Linked DNA regions of Homo sapiens: region 1 is linked to region 2. The links come from fine-mapping of genetic effects on gene expression. A gene starts in region 2. The other region holds a variant in brackets. All regions are shown on one strand. Distances are between the middles of the regions.

Evidence for each region.
Region 1: its variant is fine-mapped to the expression of ATP8A2 in cerebellum (GTEx, PIP above 0.99). The same link has a PIP of 0.9 or more in cerebellar hemisphere.

Annotation. Positions count from the first base shown.
Region 1 is chr13:26,017,031-26,019,940 of GRCh38, reverse strand. It overlaps ATP8A2 (ATPase phospholipid transporting 8A2), which reads right to left. Exons shown (of 37, transcript NM_016529.6): 37 at 1-53. Among named protein-coding and RNA genes, the nearest start is that of SHISA2, 34 kb to the left of the region's middle. The variant C/T (reference allele first, on the strand shown) is at 1,405.
Region 2 is chr13:25,370,642-25,373,551 of GRCh38, reverse strand. ATP8A2 (ATPase phospholipid transporting 8A2) reads right to left here and starts at 1,578. Exons shown (of 37, transcript NM_016529.6): 1 at 1,264-1,578. The coding sequence starts at 1,339.

The DNA of each region.
Region 1 (2,910 bases), 650 kb before region 2:
GACTTCTTCCTGACTAACAGCTCCGTGTTCTTCTTGAGAAAAAGCATACCCATCTGAAAGTGAAGCACACAGGAGAAACTGGTTAACAGGAGAATTGGGGGAGCACACTAGGTTTAAAATAAGCTGCTTTTTTTTGGCAGCGTGCGGGTGAGTGCGACATCTGGCCTCCTTAGCCTTGGATAGGTGGAGGCTTGAGATGAAGAAACCTGTGGCCATAGAGGGGCCGTGGCGGCCGTGTGCAGGCTAACTGGGGTCCCATGGTTCTAGCTGCTGATGCTGGGAAGGGAAAGCCTCTGAGGGTAGGTTTCCTATTTCTAGGGGGCTGCGGCTGAGCTCAGTGTGGGAATCACACACAGTGGGTCACTGGTCCCCGACTCCACTTTCCCACTGCCAATTAAGAAAAAACACTCCTGTCTGCCTGATGCTGTAGGGCAGCCAGCTAATTTATGAAGCTGTAAACATGCCAGGGAAACACACACACAACACTAATAGTGCAAGCTGGCAAAATGCACGTGATACCTGGAGCCTTCCTGTTTATTTATTTGAGACAGAGTCTTGCTCTGCCGCCTAGGCTGGAGTGCAGTGGCGCGATCCCAGCTCACTGCAACTTCTGCCTCCAGGGTTCAAGCAATTCTCCTGCTTCAGCCTCTTGAGTAGCTAGGGCTACAGGCATGCACCACCACGCCCAGCTATTTTTTTTTGTATTTTTAGTAGAGACGGGGTTTCACCATGTTGGCCAGGCTGGTCTCAAACTCCTGACCTCAAGCAATCTGTCCACCTTGGCCTCCCAAAGTGCTGGGATTACAGGCCTGAGCCACCACACCCAGCCCTGTTTTTAAATCAGACTGATCTGGACTGGTAATAAGTAATCAAAGTAGGGTTGTTTCCATGTAAAGAAAAAGGTTACACAATAAACTCAAAAGGAATTTAGTGATTGATTGGACCTGTGGCCATACAAAGACTATTCTTACACAATCAGTTCATATACTATTAATAAAATAAATAATAGCCAAGACTCATTAAATGCCATGTGTCTAAGACACTGTGCTATAAAATAAAGCTCATTTAATCCTCCCAGAAACCCTATGAGATAGGGGATTATACTCCTCCCACTTCACAGATGAGAAAACTGAGGCACAGAGATTTTTGTGACCTGCCCAAGGTCACAGACCTCGTGAGTGGCAGAGCTGGGAAGCAAACCCAGGGTCCACACTCTAGAGCTGAGAACCAGCTTTAGTGTTCACAAGCCCAGAGTGGGGCTTTTCTTCCAACTGGCCCTTCCCACAGAAAGACATTTATAAGGCCTGCTCTCCATTGGCTAACCCTTCTGTGTCAGGGGTCTGGAAAAGTCCCACAGCTCAATTAGACATTCTGGCCAAAAGACAACACAATAAAAAAACCTGA[C/T]AATCTTGAATTCCATCCATGCATGCGTACAACTTATCAGGGGAGCTGTGAGTTCACTGTCATACTCTTTAAAAGGAGAAAAGAAGTCGAAAAGGGTGCCCATGAATCAGTTCCTGGACTGCCTGTTAATTTCCTGAGGCATCTGGCTTAAAAAGGAAATTTCTAGAGTATCAAGACATACAGTAACAAGACAGAAGAGTCCTCGTGGGATGGAGAAGAGGAGGAGACTTTAAAAGAAGACACTCAGGCTGTTTTCTTACTCTGTGTGTTCCCATAACTGAGAGTCCCGGTCCTGGGCTGGCTTCCTGGCTCTTCCAGAGAGCATGCCTTCTGGCCACTGCCTGAGAATCCCAAAGGCTCAGGGGGGTTATCGGGGGAGGCAAGGGCTTGTCTGCAGAGGTGGCCTGAGAGTTGACTGAGGACATGGGCTGAGCAGCAGGGAGGAGGGCCCAGACCAGTGAGGCCACAGGAGGAAGAGACAGTGGGCGGGAGAGAAGGTGATACAAGCTGAGCCAGGGTGAACAGAACAGAAGAGAACAGAACAGAGAGGAATCTTCCACAGGGGGCTTTTGTCTACTTGCTCACCTCCATTTCTAGCAAAACAAAACCTACAAACCAAAAATTCCCACCACATGGTAGCCACAGTGAAGCAGCTCCCAGACCATTGTGAGCCCTCAGACAGCTGGGTACAGGAGCAGGTGGGTGTCTGAGCCTGAAGGCAGCATCAGCCTGGAGGGGAGCTCCCTTGGGGGCGGATATGCTTGTGCCAGCCTTGGGCCCACACCTAGTGCACTTGAACTTCCTGACCAGGTAGGTGGCTGTGCTTTGATTCTCAGGGCTTTAGAGTTTTCACATGATCTGCTTTCAAGCACCGAAGAGCAAATGCCACCACTCCTGTTCTCCTAAGAGCTTTTGGATTTTCACCAAGTTGCTTAATCAGAGATTAGCAGCAGGGACAAGGAAACCTCCGTTGCCCAGCTTTGGAGGAGCTGCCCCAGCCTCCTGCCTCCCTCTGGCACCGTGTGGCACACACACTCTCATCCCCAATCCTGTACAAGCTGCCCTTTATGAAGCATTTTTACTGCAGTCCAAGAGGAGACGTCTTTCCTTGGGATGTTTCAAAGCAAAATCTAGCAAATAACACTGCTTCGTCTGCTCCAGTAACAAGGCTATGTACTGTGGTCAACTTGGACAATTTCCATTCTCCAGTTCTTTAACAAGGAACGTTTCTAGTCCACATCTGAAGTCATCCTGAGGGGGCCTGGCAGAACAGCAGCTGCAATGGCAGGGTCGTCACTGGCTCCACAGCTGCTGCACCACTCCCGGGGCTGCTCCTCAGTCCTACAGAAGTGGTTCTGAGTAAAGAACAGTCACCCCAAAGAATGGGACATACTCTTTTATAAACTCTTCCGGTGGGAAGCTGAGGACTACTGAGCTCTCCACCCTGAAGATGTCTTTCTCCACTCGCTTGTTTTCATCTTAGATTCTGGTGGCCCCAAGTGGCTG
Region 2 (2,910 bases):
CCCCAGGTCTCCTCAGGCTGCCTCCACCTTGGGAAATTCTCACACCTGTATGACTGCGCCCTCCCACTGTCTCTCTGCCACAGCTCTTCCCTGCTATTTAGTCTTGACCCTGCACCCCGTGACCCCTTCAGGCTGGGATTCTCCTCAAAATGAATGTGAAAGTGTCCTGACTTTACCCAAGTTTAACAAACATTGGCTTAAATTACCTGATAAGCTTGCTTCCCTCTCACGTTACTCAACTACAGAAATACAAAAGTCGCTTATTTTTATGTGCCTATTTTCTCAAAACAAATAAAAAAGCACGAAGACAAGTGACCCCAGCTCCAAACTGTACACCCTCTACCTTCCTCATGTCAAAGATCTACCTGCAAACTTGCCGCAGTCCTGAAACGGTAAGAAATCATTTTTGGGGCTCCTCTTTACGTCTGCATTAACTAATGGTCTAGGTAACCCTATCAAGTGTCATAGCCACATAACATCCAGCTCCACGACATCATAGTTTCTAAATGTGTTCTATAATCATAGAACGCGGGCCTCTAACAGTGTGAGTGGTCGGGTATGGTACATGCGTGTTTGGCTTTAGGTTTCGAGTTCCAACACCCAGGCGCCTGCAGGCAGGGTATGTGTACGCGTGCGTGTGTACGTGTGTGTGTACCTGTGTGTGTGTGTGCGCGCGCGTGTGCGTGTGTGTGTTCGTCTCCAGATGGTTGTATGCACGGATGGTTATGAGCCAGTACGTCGCCGCTGTGAGCGCGCGAGGACCCGGGGCTCCAAGTGGTGAGAATCACTCGAGGGACCCTTCGGATGCCTTTTTCCCCCTCTGCTTTTGAGCTCTGCAGCACAGCGGTGCCGGCCGCCGGCAGGGAAGGCTGCATCTTCTCTGCGCCGCCAAACCGTGCCCACCATCGCGGTGACTGCCGCCTAGGTCGCATCCCTGAGCCGCATCCGCGCGTAGGGGCGCACGGGCACGCGCACAGGGAGGCCGCACACACACACACACATCTGTACAGGGACGAGCCGGGGGTCTCTGACGCCCGCCGCTCACCTCGCCCCGGCCTGGAGCCTTTTGGCCCCGCAGGTGCAGCGACGCCCAGCCCCCGTGCGGCCAGCGCGCCGCGTCGGCGGATCCTGCAGCCCAGAGAGCCCAGGGAGCCCAGGGAGGGGAGCGGGGCGCGGGCGGGGCAGTGTCGCATAACCGCAGGCGCGCCCCGCGCCGCCCCCGCCCCGGGCCCACCCTCCCTCGCCGCGCCCCTCCCAGCTCACCCACGGACGAGCGGATCCTCGACCTCCGCGGCAGGGACATCTTAAGAGCTTTGTCCAGGCCTGCGCCGTTCAGCATCTCGCCCGTGTCGGGGGCTCGGCGGCCCCGGGCGAGAGACGGAGGCTACGCGCAGGGCTGGGCGCAGGGGCCGCCGCCCGAGGACCATGGGTGGGCCAGCGCCTCGCCGGGCTGCTAGCTGGCGGGGACCGCCGGCGCCTGTGCCGGGCCGCGCCCGAGGCTGCGCCGTCCGTGCCGCAGCGGCCAATGCGGCAGCATCCGCGAACGCCACCGCGGCGGGCCCCGCTGGCCCGGGCTGCGGCGTGGGGGCGGGGGACCGGCCCTGAGCGGAGCCCCGCGGGAGGAGGAGCGGACGGGAGGCTGGGAGGGATCCGCAATATTACGCAGGACCGGGGCTTTTAGGTGTCGGGGAAGGCGATGGGGAGGGCTTGGTGGGGTGGGAGATTGGGCCTGTACTTTCGGGGGCTCTTCCAGGAGAGGGGTGCACCTGGGGGACTCGGAGTCTCTGCCTGTCTGCTACCTATTTACCTGCCTGTCACTTGTCCTGTGCAAGTGGAGGCGCTGTGATTCCCCAGGACTCATCCAGTCCCTTTCTTTTCGCAGTTTCTGTTCTTCCGTGCCCAGCCTGGTGGGATCTGTGTAGGGACTTCGTGGAAGGGTTATTTCCAAGGTGTCTGATGTGTGGCTTGGCACTCAGAGAAGTCGGGGGTCTCCAGCCCCCCACTCTCCACAACCTGCCTGACATTCTAACTACGCATATTAAAGCTGCAGGTAGCCCTAGGGAACCTTAACAGCAACCTTCTCAACCCCCGCACGCACACACACACACACACACACCCATCGACACACACACACACACACACAGACCCATCGACACACACACACACACACCCATCGACACACACACACACACACCTTCTTTCATAAAACAAAACCATCGAGAGGTAAGATGACTTGTCCAAGGTCACTTGATCTATTTTTTGTTTTTTCTTATCGCGTAATGTTTAGACTGTGCTTGGTCTTTCTGGGCACAATCCCATGAAGATAAGAAGCTATCTTTATTGTGCCTGATGACATTCTGACCTCGGAGTAAAAACGGAACAAAACAAAAATAAAACTGTTCAGGTGAAAGTCTGACCTTGCTTTTACTGATGCGAGCATTACATTTCTTTTAACCTAAATTAACATTAGGGACTGACAAGGAGTAGTACAGAGTTCAGCAAAAAGAATCTGTGCTAGCAAAGACAGCAGTGCGGCCTGAGCTCCTCCTGCCTGGCCTCTGCATCTGATTTTATTTTCTTTTACTTTTTTTTTTTCTTTGACAGAGTTTTGCTCTTGTTGCCCAGGCTGGAGTGCAATGGCGCTATCTCGGCCCACTGCAACCTCCGTCGCCCGGGTTCAAGTGATTCTTGTGTCTCAGCCTCCCGAGTAGCTGGGATTACAGGCGCCCACCACCACGCCCAGCTAATTTTTGTATTTTTAGTAGAGACGGGGTTTCACTAAGTTGGCCAAGCTGGTCTCGAACTCCTGACCTCAGGCGATCCACCTGCCTCGGCCTCCCAAAGTGCTGGGATTACAAGCGTGAGCCACCACCCCCGGCCTCTGCTTCTAATTTTCTTAAGAACAAACAT